Linked DNA regions of Homo sapiens: region 2 is linked to region 1. A link means that fine-mapping ties the variant in region 1 to the expression of a gene that starts in the linked region. Tissue or cell type: whole blood. Region 1 holds a variant in brackets; the other region holds the start of a gene. All regions are shown on one strand. Distances are from middle to middle.

The links. PIP is the estimated chance that this variant, and not a neighbour inherited with it, causes the effect.
Region 2: it holds the start of ADPRH, and the variant in region 1 is fine-mapped to the expression of ADPRH in whole blood (TOPMed, PIP above 0.99). The same link has a PIP of 0.9 or more in blood mononuclear cells.

The regions. Positions count from the first base shown.
Region 1 is chr3:119,623,596-119,631,701 of GRCh38, reverse strand. It overlaps PLA1A (phospholipase A1 member A), which reads right to left. Exons shown (of 11, transcript NM_015900.4): 9 at 6,470-6,578; 10 at 2,837-3,001; 11 at 1,891-2,318. The coding sequence ends at 2,234. Among named protein-coding and RNA genes, the nearest start is that of PLA1A, 30 kb to the right of the region's middle. RefSeq lists an enhancer at 7,378-7,577. The variant C/TC (reference allele first, on the strand shown) is at 4,068.
Region 2 is chr3:119,575,914-119,584,019 of GRCh38, reverse strand. It overlaps ADPRH (ADP-ribosylarginine hydrolase), which reads right to left and starts at 4,528. Exons shown (of 5, transcript NM_001125.4): 1 at 4,169-4,528; 2 at 3,384-3,469; 3 at 1,553-1,886. The coding sequence starts at 1,850. RefSeq lists enhancers at 1,612-1,911, 1,075-2,274, 3,379-3,598, 4,539-4,638, 4,423-4,924 and a silencer at 4,219-4,358.

The sequences.
Region 1 (8,106 bases):
AAACATTATAATGTTCTCATTGTATTTGTTTCTAGGATTAATTTATGAGTAGAGAAACTGGTTTTTCCATGTAAGGTAATAATCCAAAATTTCTGACGGAGCAAAGTAACATGTGAGAAAGTCTAACAGTGTTTAAAAATAAGAAAATATTCGCAAAGAAACCCAGGGCTATGGCCAAAAGCAGAATGGAATTTGAGGCCACTGAAAAACAGATTGAGTGAGTTTAACACCAGTTAGCATCAACATCACAAAACATGATTTCTTGTTGTTGTTGTTTTTGAGATGGGGTCTCACTGTGTCTCTTAGGCTGGAGTACAGTGGCATGATCTCAGCTCACTGCAACCTCTGCCTCCTGGGTTCAAGCAATTCTTGTGCCTCAGCCTCCTGAGTAGCTGGGATTACAGGCATGTGCCGCCACACTGACTAATTTCCAGCTAATTTTTTTTTTTTTTTTGCATGTTTAGTAGAGATGGAGTTTCATCATGTTGGCCAGGCTGGTCTTGAACTCCTGACCTCAAGTGATCCACCCAGCTTGGCCTCCCAAAGTGCTGGGATTACAAGTGTGAACCACCGCGCCCGGCCGACAATATGATTTTCATCACAGAAATGTGATACACATTTGGAAAAAAAAGCAACGAGCAGTGGGGAAAACTAAGGAAGAAGTATGTGCTAAGCAGTGTCTCCCAAGATGGCAAATGGAAGTGCAGCGTAATACAGCTCAGGGTAAGACTGTCTCTAGGGAGGAACCTGGGTGGAGTAAAGAGAAGGAAAAGGAAAGGAGGGTTTTTGGTTTGAGGCAAAATAGAAAATTGCAAGCCTACATAGCAGGGAACATGTGTATTCTTTAGACATGACTGTGATCATGCAGACAGTTAAACATCTTCGTGAGCCTCACCTGTCCTTTTGGTTGCATTTCCAAGGCCTGGACAAAGGCCGAAGCTCTCTCAGTGCCCTGGCTGACTTGGCCCAGATGAAGTAATTGCAGCCTGTTGCTTACATCATTCTCCCTGTCTTCATTGTGGAGAGTGAATCAGCAAGTCAGCAGTTTCCTTTTAAAGCTCATTTATTTATGTTTTTTAAAAAGTGAATTTAAAGAATAAAAGAATCCGAGGCAACCTGGATTTGGGAAAGTGGTGAAGGCGTGTGCCATATCTGTTAGTTCCGCACCCCCTTCCCATCCACTCTCCAACCTTCTCTGTCCTGCTGTATGCCCCGGGCCTGGTTAGGCCATGTCAATGTGTTATTTGTCCTCTGGCTTCTGTTGGGGGTCCTTAATGGGGAGCACTAGCAGGAAAATGGGAGAGGAAGAAGAGTGAAGTCAGAGAACCTGTGCTTCTGCTCCCTCCCTGCGGGGTTGCTGCTGGCTGGCTGTGTCCCTGCACTGCAGGTCTGCAGCCTTCTGGTGCTTCCCCTCCTTCTCTGGCCTCTTCACAGGTAGGGTAGTAGCAGCTTCTACTGCCAGTAGCTTCAGGGAACTGCATTATCCCTGTGGTTGCCCCACAAAAGACTATGGCAAATTGTCCTTTTCTTAAATTCTCCTCAAATAACCCAGATTGAGCGCACCATCTGTTTTTTGCTGGGCTGCGGCTGATACAAGGTTATTTACAAAGATCAAAGTTTGGGAAACACTAACCCAGAGGAAATCTACCTGTATTCCCCAAGATCTCTCTGATCCCTCAAACCTTCCAGATATCCAGAGGAGGTAATGGTAAGGGTTGGTAAATGGTGCCATCTTCCTCCCTACCCTTCATCCCCTCTCTTTTTCCAAGTACTTCTTTTAGTTGCTATTTTAATACCGATAATGCAATACTGTTTTCTCCAATCCCACAGAGTATAAATCTCAACTTTTTGTAGGTAACAGAATTCCATTCAAGTAAAACAATTAAATGATTCAGATACTCCATGAAGTTTTATTTTTAAAAAATTGTTTACCCTGTACATGTTTCTATTGAATCCTAAGTACGAATGCCCAAGGAGATAAAGCAAGTGCAGTTAAGTATGCATGGGAAAGCTAAAATGGGTATGTACATAAGATCGGCAAAGGAAACCAAGTTCTGTAAAATGAGTTCTCCCTCCCCTCCAGGGTAGCTGATTATGAGGAAAATAAGAAAGAGCTTTGCTTTTCTCCTTAGTAGTAATGGTCTACAATAAGCTGCACACACACATCCCTCATCACACCTCTCTCTCAAAAAAAAAAAAAAAATGCAGGGAGATGTGTCCTGCCCAGGTTAAACTACACACAGGCTATCTTCAGGTCACAGGAAACAGTCACACTTGCTTGTAAGTTCACTGGTTCAGGTAAGCAGACCATCTTTTCTCTGGAAGAGAAGAGCAATAAGAGAGCAGTGGCTGGTGAGGAGACAGGGCTTGGCATTGTGTGGCTTTTGAATTCCCATGATGTCTGGTGAAAGAAATCTGCAATCACCTACAATTAAGAGCCAGTTCCTGTGGTCCAAGTGCCCAGGGGTGGTAAGGTTAATGACATAAATGCCTTTAGAGGAAGGGAAAGGGGATGTGGATTCTGGATCCACACCCATGAATGTGACCCATGACACAGTTGGAGTGGAGGCCACAGAGGAGAAAATATGCAATGAGAAAACTTTGTTCTAATAAAATCTTACATAGAAACCAAATATGCAGAACAAATACAGTGGAATTTCCCCAACCCAAGATGGTCCCACAGGAGGTTCTGGAAAACACCGGGTGTCTGTCATCTCTGCTTCTAAGATGATAATCACTATGATGAGATTGAACCTCAATAGGCAGCACATCTAATGCCAAGACTGGTCTTTGATGTGTGAGTGCATCTGGTGCAGAGGTGAATACTGGGGCTTACCTGTCATTGACAGGCAAAAGGGCAGTGCAGAACTTCCCAATAATGGTAGTCCGGTCTTTTTTCCAAACTCGGTTGGAAGACTGAAACTTGAATTTCACTTGGTTTATCTGGCATTGTGGGGTGGCATGGGCTATGATTCCTTTCCCATAGCGTTGCTGCTTAGGTCTGCAAGAAAAGGGTAAAGGGAAAGTAAATGACTGTAGCCCTTACCACCTGTACTTCCCCTTTGGCTCCGATCGGGCTCTGCTGGTGGCACTGGTTGGCTGTCATGCACCAAGGGGTTAGCTCCTTACCACAGTCCTTTGTGTCACCTTCACCAGCCCCTCTGCCCACACCTACAGCTTTGAATATGACCAAGAAAGTAGTTGTTGATTTTTTAGAATAAACAAGTGGACACTGCAACAAAATAGTAGCTCCTGGATTTTCATATCTGGAAAAACTGTTCCTCGTTCTTGGATTCCTAGCTGGAGGAGATCTTCACCTTCAGATCTAATTACCCAGAAGTAGAAACCCTCTTTTAGGACATTCCTTTTCAAAGAATTCTGTGTAAGGACTTTTCTGTTTTAGGCTAAGTATGAATGTGTGGGTGGAAACAGCAACAAGAAAACATCATGAAGCGCAGACAGAGTTGGGTGGAACCCAGGTTTGTCTTCCCAGCTGTATGGCTTTGGACAAGTTACCTAAGCTGGCAAGGTGGCTGTGGAGTCACATAGCAACTAGGTGTAAGTTCCAGCTTCCCTACATGCTGCTATGAACTTGAACCGTAGGGTTTGGTTCATACTGACTTCAGCTGAGGAGACTCAGAGTGAAAATGGCATCCAGTTCTGTCTTAACCCAGCCTCTTGGCTTTGCCCCCCCAGATTCCCTTTATGTTTAAAGATTCAGGCACCACTTTGGACTGAGACAAAGATGAGGGAGGAGTATGAAGTGATCAACCTAGCAGGGTGCTTCCAAAAGGGCTGTGGTACCCCCTAGGTACTAGGTACTGGAGACAAAAGCAAAAAATCGTGAGATTCAATGAGGAAAGTCTTCACGCTGAGTGCAAGGCACAGCCCAGCCAGCAGATCCTGAGGGTGGTGAGTGGGGGATCAAGGAGGGCGCCCAGCAGAGCTGCACCACCCAGCTAGGGAAGGAATTTGACTTGTGGGGCCCTTTGTGATCCTCCCTGGAATCCAAGTGGGACTCTGAAAAAGAGGAAAGAAGGAGGGCGCTGCGTTCCTCTCGGCGGGGG[C/TC]AGGGGTGGTGTGGGGAACCACCCTTGCCAACTGGGTTTCCTGTTCCTTTCTGGCCTTCGCAGAGTGGTGATAGGGCCTCTTTGTGTTCTTTTTAGTCCAGTGTTAGTCATATCACTTGTTTTTTCCTTCTGAGGGAAGATCATGTATAATTTTGTTTAAAAACCATTCCCTCTTTTTTTAAATTCACAAGTCTTTTGAAATATTACAGAGGGAATAAATAAGATTGTTTCCTTTAAGCTTAGACTGAAGAGTTTGTAAAATACAAGGAATATGAAAAATCTTTTAAGTGAGTGGTTTGGGGAGTTGGCCCAGGTTAATTCTCCAATTAGAAGGAAATCTTAGCGTCGCATAAAGCTATAGAAATTTGGAAAAAGACCACACATAACCTCCCCGTTTTTCCCCCAATTTCTGATCTGCAAGAAGTGAATCATGTTCTGGTGCCTTCTTCAAAAGAGTTATGTGAACCTCTTCATGGAGGAGGAAGCGCTAATCTGTGGATGTTGACTGGAATTACTCGGGGAGCTTTTAAAATGTAGCTGTGGAGCCTATGCCCAGAGACCCTGATGTGATTGGTCTGGGTTGGGGGGCTTGGCGTCAGTATTTTTTAAAGCTCTCCAGGTGATTCTAACGTGCAGTCAGGGTTGTGGGTCATTTTCATGACTCCTGCCAGTGTTGCTGGACCTACCAATGGGCTAGAAGATGATGAAAACACCCTTCTAGAAGTAGCACAACCTTGAGCGGGTCTAATGAAAGGTACTTGGCTTACTGATATCCAGCCACAATCTGCAAGGCTCTGTGGGCACCTGCAGGCCTGTGCTGGAATCCTGATGGCTGTACCTAGCTGTGTGACTTTGGGTGAGCCAGAAGGAACACCAGCTAGTGGCCACGGTTTTGGGAGTGAAATGCACTCCTTCCAGCAGAAACTTGTAGTGCCTCACAGCAGAGTTCATGTCCAACATCCCAACCCGAGAAATATCTCCAAACTCACATCTGATCTCATCACTGTCCTGTTTAAAACTCCCAGTGGCTCTCCAAACTACTCTCAGGATAAAAACCTGTCCTTCAAGGCCTGGCAGGGTCTGGCTCTGACTTGCCTCTCCAGCCTCACAGCATCCCCACAACCCCAAATCTGTGCTCCAGACACACCAGAGGTGTCACATTCTCTCTAAGCCTGGCCTGGGTAGCTCCTGGAAAGCCTGCTCATCATTTCCTTGGACTCAGTCAGACTCTGTCTTCTATGCTGTCACTCTCAGGGCATTGCTCACTCATTTAAGTGTGTGTGCACTGGTCATTTCCCTGTTTGCTCTGGACTGATCTATTCCCCTGCAGGTTCCCCCACCAACAGGTTCCAGTGAGGTCTAACCCAGTGGAAGCATGCTCAGGTGGGTGGCTGCTTTGGGCAGGGGTTCCAGAGGGGCCGCACTTCCCATGGGTTCAGCTCCTGCCAAGCAGCCTTCCCTGTGGACCCAGCTTTGCCAACTCCACTCCTGCTTTGTCCCTCTAGCCTAGGGTTGTATTGGCTCCTGTTGTGATTAATCTCTGCATTGTGTCCCCATCTCTGTTTTCCAGCTCATCCAACACACTTGTAATGAGTTCACTGTGCTAAATTCCTTCTCTTGGACCTCCTCTGTTTTCCTGACCGGACTCTCACTGAGACAGTGACATTATCTGACAATCTGTCTCCCGCTGGCTTGTGAATAACTAACCGGTTGCTTTTTAAAGAAGCATGCACCATGGCTGCTGACTTCCTATCCCCTGCAGGCTGTGGCTCCCTACAGTTGGGGTTCCTTGCCCTCTCACTTCAAGCGTAGTCCCACCAGCCCCCAAGCCCAAGTCTGCCCCAACAAAGGAAGGGAATGACTACCCCCAGTTTCAGGAATCACCCAGCACCAAGCCCTCCTGGCCGCTAGTCTGGCCCTCAGCTCGCACTCCGTTGCTGACTGACCCTGTGCCTCAGATTCCATTCTGGTAACTGACCCAGAACTGCTCTCCTTTCCCAGGAGTGGGTGCTCTCCAGGCTCTGGCTAGCCCTTCCTGGGCTGGTGACTGAGGCCCTCCTCCCTACTGACATCCCTGATACCCGCACTGTCTGGATTCCAGAGTACTGTTTCCTCTCAGGGACCTGATTCCTATGTCCTCTCCATCTGTTGGGACATGCCATCCCTGCTGCCTGCTTGCCCTGCCTACTCTCATCTGAATCTGCTATACTTGGACCCACTACTGAACAGCTCCTCAGCATGTGTCTGTGGCTGGATCTATAGTAGGTGCTGCCCCCAGCCAAGCCGGCTGGGCCCATGCATCAGCAATCACACAGTCCCTGACCTGGGATGTCCATGTGTGTAAAATGAAAAAGTAACCAACTCCTAAGGGGAGGAGTCAACCAGGTGGGACACTTACGTACATGGTGATCTTAGATGAAGAGGTGATGTTACTGCTAAGGAAGGTAACCTCGATGTTGGTGTCCTTGTTTCTCAGTTCCTTCAAGTGAAACTCCACGAGGCTGTGATGCACTAGGAAACCAAAGCACAACAGAGACTGGCCAGAGGGCAGAAGGTGCAATGGGCAAAAACCCCAGAGAGCAGCAGTGTGGTTGGGAATCTTGGCTCTATCTCTTAGTGGCTGTGTGCCCAGGAGCAGATCACCTATAATCTCAGGTCCTCAGTTTCCTCAAGTGCAAATTGAGGATAATAAAAATAGACACTTGGCTGGGCGCAGTGGTTCACGCCTGTAATCCCAGCACTTTGGGAGGCCGAGGCGAGTGGATCACCTGAGGTCAGGAGTTTGAGACCAGTCTGACCAACATGGTGAAACCCCATCTCTACTAAAAATATAAAAATTAGCCAGGTGTGGTGGCGGGTGCCTGTAATCCCAGCTACTCAGGAGGCTGAGACAGGAGAATCGCTTGAACTCAGGAGGCAGAGTTTGCAGTGAGCAGAAATTGCACCACTGCACTCCAGCCTGGGCGGCAGAGCAAGACTCCGTCTAAAAAAAAAAAAAAATAGATACCCTAGGTCTGAAATAAGTGGGTTAATATGTATGAACTTCTCAGGACAGTGCCTGTGCCTAGGAAGCATTCAGTAATGTTAGTTTTTGTTATTTTGTAATACTAATGTTTTACTTCCCCTTGTTTGCTGACATATTCATGGTGGGATGATCTTGAATGAGCCAAAATGCATCTATCATATACGGCTATCTTTTGTTTGTGTCCCCTCCGAGTTCATGTTTAAACTGAATGCTCTGTGCAACAGTACTGAGAGGTGGGGCCTTTGAGGGAAGGGATTAAGTCATGAAGGCTCTACTATCATGAATGAAATAGTGCCTTATAGAAGGGCTCAAGGGAATTGGCAGGGCCCTTATTTGACCTCCTGCGTTCTGCTGTGTGTGAACACGGTATCTGTCCCCTCTGGAGAATGCAACAGCAAAGCACCTTCTTGGGAGCAGAAAGTGCAACCCTTATAGACATGGAGTGCCGGCGCCTTGATCTGGGACTTCCCAGCCTCTAGAGCTGTGGGAAAATAAATTTCTGAGCTTTGTAAGTTACCCAGTCTCAGGTACTGTGTCATAGTAGCACAAGTAGACTAAGACATAAACTAAAGGTTTAACTCATAAGGTCAGGCGTGGTGGCTCACTCCTGTAATCGCAGCACTTTGGGAGGCCAAGGCGGGTGGATCACCTGAGGTCAGGAGTTTGAGACCAGCCTAGCCAATATGGTGAAACCCTGTCTCTACTAAAAATATAAAAATTAGCCAGGCATGGTGGCAGGCACCTGTAACCCCAGCTACTAAGGAGGCTGAGGCAGGAGAAGCATTTGAACCCGGGAGGCAGAGGTTGCAGTGAGCCGAGATGGTGCCGTTGCATTACAGCCTGGGTGACAAGAGTGAAACTCTGTCTCAAAAAAAAAAAAAAAAAAAAAAAAGAAAGAGAGAATTAACTCATTAAATACAGCAACGGCCCTGCTCCCTCTCCACACACCCAGCGTCAGGGAAGCAGGCTGTGTGTGTAGGAGACTGCTCCTCTCCCTGCAGCCGCTGGTTACCT
Region 2 (8,106 bases), 48 kb after region 1:
GATCAACTGAGGTCAGGAGTTCGAAACCAGCCTGGCCAACATGGTGAAACCCCATCTCTACCAAAAATACAAAAATTAGCCAGACGTGGTGGTGCGTGCCTGTAATCCCAGCTACTTGGGAGGCTGGGGCAGGAGAATCGCTTGAACCTGGGAGGCAGAGGTTGCAGTGAGCCGAGATCGTGCCACTGCACTCCAGCCTGGGCAACAGAGTGAGACTCCATCTCAAAAAAAAAAAAATTTTTTTTTAACTGGCCACTCAAAAAAATTTTTTTTAAAGACAGGCTTTTGCTATGTTGCCCAGGCTGGTCTCAAACTCCTGGACTCAAGCAATCCTCTCACCTTGGCCTTTCACAGTGTTGGGATTACAGGTGTAAGCCACAGCACTTGGCCCCACAGATCTATTTTTTAAAGGACAGTAGGTTCATAACATACATACTATTTTATAACCTATTAGTGTATAATAATACTTTTCAATATTAGTAAATATTATTTGCAAATTTTAAATTTTTATTAATATTTAAATTGACAAATCAATTATATACATTTATTTAGTATAATGTGATGATTTGATATATGTAAACAATGTGGGATGATCAGGCTAATTAGCATATCTATTGCCTCACTTTTTTTTGTGGTGAGACATTTGAAATTTACTCTATTGGTTATTTTGAAATATACGATACATTGTTATTGAGTAGAGTCACCCTGAATAATTTTAAATGGTTGCAAATGTGTCAGCTTAATTAATTATGAGAGATTTAGGTTCTTTCTATTTATTTCTTTATTTTTTAGAGTCAGGGTATTGCTTTGTCACTCAGGCTGGAATGCAGTGGCACGATCCTAGCTCACTGTAGCCTCAACCTCCCGGGCTCAAGCAATCATCCTACCTCAGCCCCCCAAGTAGCTGGGACTACAGGTATGTGCCATGACACCTGGCTAATGTTTTAAAAATTTTTTTCTGGAGTTGTAGTCCCCAGCCTTTTTGGCACCAGCGACCGGTTTTACAGAAGATAATTTTTCCATGGACGGGGTTGGTTGGGGGAGGTTTTGGGACAAAACTGTTCCACCACAGATCATCAGACATTAGATTCTCATAAGAAGCCCACAATCTAGATCCCTCGCATGTGCAGTTCCCAACAGGGTTCAGGCTCCTATGAGAATCTAATGCGCCACTGATCTGATGGAGGCAGAGCTCAGGTGATGATGCTCCTTCGCCCATCACTCACTTCCTGCTGTGTGCTCCAGTTCCTAACAAGCCACGGATCAGTACCTGTCTCTAGAAGAGGGATTGGCTACCCCATTCTAGAGACAGGGTCTCCGTATATTGCTCAGGCTTGTCTTGAACTCCTGGGTTCAAGTGATTCTCTCACCTTGGCCTCCCAAAGAGCTGGAATTACAGGTATGAGCCACCACCATGGCCGTTATTTCTATTTTTATCACATTTACAAACACTATTGTCTCTGTTATTTAAATCTCCATCAACATTCTTAATGATTTCCTCAAGGCTGTTTTATTCTTTGCCCTCCTTGCACCTCCCACCGGCTGTGCTCACCTGGTGCCCGCCCATCCATGTCTTCCATGCAGTCTTGGTAATGCTTAGCAAGGAGGTAATACAGTTGAGTCAACTTAGGGGCTTTCCCAGCTTCCACAAGAGCTTCTGCTGTGGCCAAGTGCATCACTGTGTCGTCACTAACTCTCCACCTTCCCACGTCTAGGGCATCCAAGCCGCCCAGCTGGGCCAACTGCCGGTGTATCTTCTCCCCATCCTGGAGGAACTCCCACTTCCCATTGTAGTACCCCAGGGCATCTCCAGCTGCACTCAGCACCATAGCAGCCACATACTTCTCCATCAGTCCCTCACAATTGCTGGGCTCTGGAGAGGGTGTCTTTGTGGGGAAATTAAGACAAAGGAAATAGGATGAGGAGCAAGAAGAATCAGAAAAAACAACGACTCTAGCTATGTTTTATTGAGCACTCACTACTTGCAGACATTGTATCAGTGGCATCTCATGTAATCCTCATCACTGCTCTATGAGGAATATAAAGCCCATTTTATGTATGAACAAATGGAGGACCATGGAGATAATGCAGTTTGAGAAATGTTCAGTGACTTGTCTCAGGTCACAGAGCCAATAAGTGGCAGGGCTGGGATCCCAACATAGGTCCATCTGACTCCAAAGTCTATCATCATAACTACAACTGTATCTCTTGCCTCTTGGTGAGTAGTAAGCCCACTAAATTCTGCAAGTCAAACCCAGCTCATCATTTGCTCTTCTTAGCTGGGATTTGGCCTTAGAAGTGCAAGGCTTTACACTTCCTATTAGTGTCACAATGTGTAGTTCACAAAGCACCTGCACATTCATTGTCTCACTAATAGGGAGGGATTACAGTATGCATTTCACAGATAAGAAAATGAAGGCTCAGATAAGCTAAATTCACAAAACAAGAGGAGTGGAAGTACTGGAACCCAAATCTGATTCCAGCCAAGCCAGGATGCTTGGTATCACACCACTCAGCCTCAGTCCAGATCTTCTTACCTTGGGCAACCTCTTGGTGCCTCAGCCTCCACATTTATAAAATGGCACTGATTTTAAAAAGTAACAACCTCCTGGATTTGTTGTTAGGAATAAATAAATTAAATTTCATAAAGTTGGCTGGACGCGGTGGCTCACGCCTGTAATCTCAGCACTTTGGGAGGCCGAGGTGGGTGGCTCATCTGAGGTCAGGAGATCGAGACCAGCCTGGCCAACAGGGTGAAACCCCATCTCTACTAAAAATACAAAAATTAGCCGGGTATGGTGGTGCATGCCTGTAGTCCCAGCTACTCAGGAGGCTGAGGCAGGAGAATCGCTTGAACCCAGGAGGCAGAGGTTGCAGTGAGCCGAGATTGTGCCACTGCACTCCAGCCTGGGCGACAGACCAAGACTCTGTCTCAAAAAAAAAAAAAAAAAAAAAGTTCTTAGAGTGCTTGGCACATAGTAAGCTTGATTTTTGACATATTTGTATTATTCATATACAACCAGGGAAAATGGGTGTTCTGTTTTAGAACTAGAACATTTTCTCCCCACAACCTTTCCTTCGACAGTAATGTTTAAATATTGTTTCTCTTAGAAATGATCAGCTTCTAGAGAATTCGAATCTCTATTAATAATATACCCACCATGAATGAAATCCCTGGTAAAGCGCTGGCTTCCCTGTTGGTGCATTTCCTAAGAACCCCCCTCTTTCAGCCAATTCCTCAGGGTTCCCTTCTCCCTGTGGCTTTCAGGTCAAAGCCCTCCATCCCATCCAGGCCAATACTTTTATAAGGGTCTGGCAGACTAGCTCATTCTCCCCTCAGGTGAAACTTTTCCCTCCCCTCCACTTATCTAAACCCTATTTACCCAAGGTCTAGTTCAAGTCAGGAGGCTTCCAGAAGTGCTTCTGCAGCTGCACTGCTGTTGGCCATGGAATGCAGGCTGGAGAGCCCCTGGAGAAGGAGTAAACGACGAAGATGGATGCGTTCCACTACCCAGTTACTGGTAATGCTGAGTTTCTGAGCTCACAAAGGATATTTGTAAATGTTATTTACATAGTTTATTATTTACAGTGAAGCCTAGGCACTGAGATTCTGGGCTACTAGACCTGACAGACACCCGGGACAGCGGTTTGCCCATCTGTAAACTGGAGGGGGAAGTGGGGAGGTATAGGCTCTCGGAAGTTCCGTCCTGCGCTGCGATTTTCAGACACTAGGCCAAGACACTCTGCTTCTTGGCCTCGGAGGACTAACTTTAACCCCCCATACCCTCCCTCTCAATGTCCTCATTGTCCTTTCCGTAATTCCTTCTGGCTCCACCCTAATGTGTGCTTCTGTGAATTGCAAGCTGGGATGGGGGAAGAAGACCGGCATCTTTTTTCGGTTGTAAATTCCCTTTAACGTTCGCTTTCAGAACGCTGTAATTACTTAACTCCTCTGAACTTTCACGGGTCACATTCTCGTACCCGAACTATACATTCAGAACTAAGATCTGATCAGCTGCTTCCGGGCCATGCCCGGCTTTGGAAAGAAACGGGGCGGTTGACACGCTCCCACGATTTGCAAGACTGGGAATCCTCATGGTCGGCCACACTCGGAGAGCGCCAGGGGCGGGGGAGGGGAGCGCGGGGCCGAGGGCCGGGATCGCGATACCTGCTGTAGCCTGGACTGGAACGCGCGAGCGACGGGCGTGGCGCGGGCTCCCGGGGCCGGGGAAGAGGCCTTGGCTGCTGCGGGTGGACGAGGGCGCGGGTTGGGGCGGAGCCGGGTCACCGGGTTCCGGGACTGTCCCCAGATAAGCAGGGTGGCGGCGAGGGCCCCCGCACCTGCGCTTGGCCGCGCTGAGTGAGCTAATCTTGGAGCCTCCAAGGCGGCTTCCTGGCACCGCCGCGCCCTTCTGCACCCAAGCGAGAGTGGACGGGACCTCCGTCGCCCGCCCCAAATGCTCTGAAGAGCCCGGAGCCTGGTGCCCGGAATGTGGCGGCACCGGAAAGCCGGCTCTCGCCTGGCTGTGGTCAGTGACTCCCGTGTGGCCCCGGCTGACGCCTTCGCCCGTGCTCACGTCCGACTTTGTAGGACTGTAGTGGACCGGGTGTGCCCAGATGCTTGAAGAGCGTACTGAGTGTGCCGCCCTTGCCAGGGTTCTGGGCCCTCACGCATAAAGTGGGATAATAATATCTGCCTCTTAGAATGGTTGTTAAGGATTCAGTTAGTTAATTTTAACTAGTCATTTATTTGGCAGCAGCGTAGAATTCTTGTATCCTGATCGTAAATAAAAGCAAAGAAAAACGAAGAGTATTTTTGTCTAAATACATTAATCATGTCACTTTTAAAGCAAATCAGAATCACCATATGCAAATATTCTATATATTTCTCCAAAGTTTTAAATTTGCTATGCCTATTTTCTTGCTGTAATGACTAGCCTTGGTCTGAGAGCTTTTTAAAAAATTGATATATAATTTATATATAATGAAATGTCCTTACACCATAATCGAGATATGAAATATTTCCATCACTTTAAAACATTCTCTTGTGGCCTTCCCAGTGAATAACCATCTCCATCTCCAACTCTAGCCTAAGTGACTTTTGAGTGTTTACAAAAATCAAGTTCACCAATAAGGGAGGCAGAGATCACCTCCAACCCCCTACACCCTCTAGCTCTTAGTGAGCTAATCAGCTGCATCTAGAAGCCAAATTGACACTAGGCAGATTAACAAGAGAAAAGTATACAAATTTTATTAATTTTACATGTACATGGGGATGTTAAGAGACTGAATCCTGAAGAAAGTGTCCAAAGCAAGATGCTTTTATACTTTTTAGAAAAAGAGTGATAAATTTAAGAAGAAGTGACAGGACAAAGAAAATCCGGCTAGGGTGGTAAAAAATTTCTAGGGGAGCCCCTAGGAGATATATGGGGGGTGGGGTGTAAAACAGGTGGAAGATAATGGTTACTTTGCAAGAATGTTTACTCCAGTCCAAATGCCACCTCCAGTTCCAAATCTCTGGTGATGAGAGCTATTTTCTCGCTCTGGCGTGGAGAACATACCTCTCCTAGAGGAATCTTTATTGCTGGCTGCATGCAGGAAGAGACAGCTCAGCTCCTGTCAGGGAACCAGGCTCATTTGTCTTTCACACAGTATGCCAATCACTGAGGCGCACAAGTTTTGCAGTAGAGAAAGGGTGTATTCACAAGGCAGCCAAGACAGGAGACTGGAGAACAGGCCTCAAATGTGCCTTTCCAAAGATGGAATTTTAGGAGTGCTTATGGGATAGGGGAGGAAGGTGGTCCAAGGTTCAGAGAAAGATGAGGTAAGGAAAAGTGAGGCAATCGGTAATCTGAGCAAGCATAGTCAATCTTCATGGCTGTTCATAGAACACATGTTCACAAAATCGTGACGTTAGCATGATCTGAGAGTGGAGTTTTGGGCCTTCTGATGTCAAAAGGTCACCCATTGGACACTCACGCAGGCCAAGATGAAGGGCTGGTGGCTTGAACTGGACAAGAACTGACTCTAAGTTCCTGAAAAATAACTTAAGCAATATTTTCCATGGTGTCCTATCAGAGAAGTTATCTATAAGGAGGCAAGTGGAATTTAGTTATGTATCGTCTAGCTACATGACTTTTAGCTATGCAGGTTTTAAAATCGACTAGAAGCAAGTGACCAAAAGCAAGCAAGGCAAATTAAGTGTCAGGCCTAATCAGGTCAGCCCTCAGTTTTACCCTTTCTGAAACTATAATTTCTCTAATGTTTTCAACTCAAAGTAATCAATATATTATATGGCATATTTGGGGATGGCACATCCTTCATTCTTTCAACTGTCAAAGATTTTCAGCCTCTGAGGATGCAGTCAAAGCAAGTTCTGTAGTAAGAGACATTTTGAATAATAAGCATCCCGATAAAACTCAACACAGTTTCAGCTTAAGATGTCTGCTGAGGATATTGTTCATATTATGTAGTGATCTTTCTGTGAGAATCCATGGGAAAGGGTGATTTTTTGTTTTCGTTTTTGACTTAAATGTAAAGAATAACTGGGGCTGGGCACAGTGGTTCATACCTGTAATCCCAGTACTTTGGGAGGCCAAGGGGGACAGATTGCTTGAGACCAGGAGTTCGAGACCAGCCTGGGCAACATGGTGAAACCTGTTCTCTACAAAAAATACAAAAATTATCCAGGCATGCGCCTGTGGTCTGAGCTACTCAGGAGGCTGAGGTGGGAGGACTGCTTGAGCCCAGGAAGCAGAGGTTGCAGTGAGCTGAGATTGTGCCACTGCACTCCAGCCTGGACGACAGAGCAAGACCCTGTCTCAAAACACAAACAAACAAACAAAAACAAACAGAAAAACTGGGGTTGTTAGCAATTAGTTTGCTTTGAACTTTATGGTGCCTATGAACTTTGTGACCATTAGCATAGACTCCCGACACATCCACGCTATCTGGTTTCAAACCCTTGTAACAACACTTGGGGGCCAGGCACGGTGGCTCACGCCTGTAATCCCAGCACTTTGGGAGGCCAAGGCAGGTGGATCATGAGGTCAGGAGTTCGAGACCAGCCTGACCAACATGGTGAAACCCTGTCTCTACTAAAAATAAAAAATTAGCCGGGCATGGTGGTGGGTGCCTGTAATCCCAGCTACTCGGGAGGCCAAGGCAGGAGAATTGCTTGAACCCAGGAGGCGGAGGTTGCAGTGAGCTGAGATCGTGCCACTGCACTCCAACCTGGGCGACAGAGTGAGACTCCATCTCAAAACAAAACAAACAAACAAAAAACACTAGCTTGAGTAAGTGATTTTAGACAAGTCACTTCATCTTGCTAAGCTTCACTTTCTGTTATTAAGTAGGAAAAATAATAGTACATATTTCATAAAGTTGGTTTGAAGATTGCATGAAATAATTAATTGAAAAATTTTAGCACAGTGCTTATCAATGTAGTAGTCATGCAAGAAAAAATTACTACCAGGTCAGATATCTCTCTGTATTCCCAGTTCTCATCTCCATCACACACATGAGCCATTCTACCTTCTTTTCACATTAGTTAACACCTACTGACATCCTTTCTCTTCTGTCAAAATTAGAAAATGTTTTTGGGCATCAAGGACATTGTCCTATAAACCAAAAGGATAATTTATCAGTTAGCATGTTTCCAGCTCCAAATAACGGCAAATAACCATCACTCTTCCCCACCCCCAAAACACCACATACTCACTGGGCTTAAATAATAATGGCACTTATTATCTTATGTAACAAAATGTCTAAAGGTAAGAAGTCCCAGGGTTAATTTAGCAACTGTATACTATCATCAAAGAAAGACCCTGTTCTTCTTATCTTTCTGACCTACTATCTTCAGTTATTTTTATCCCCAGACTGACGTTTTTAATTGGCACAAGATCATATTTTCCCCATTTTAATTTATTTTATCAAATGTATATAGAGGTCTTATCCTTCGGTTTGTTTTTGTTTAAACCATTTTGCTATTTTGTGTCTGCTAGCGAGCCCAAGAGGCGTTGCCTATTAACCATTTACTGTTAATTTCTTCGAAAATTTTTGTTTAGCTCTGATTATTTAACTAGGCAGTCAAGATAATGTGTATGC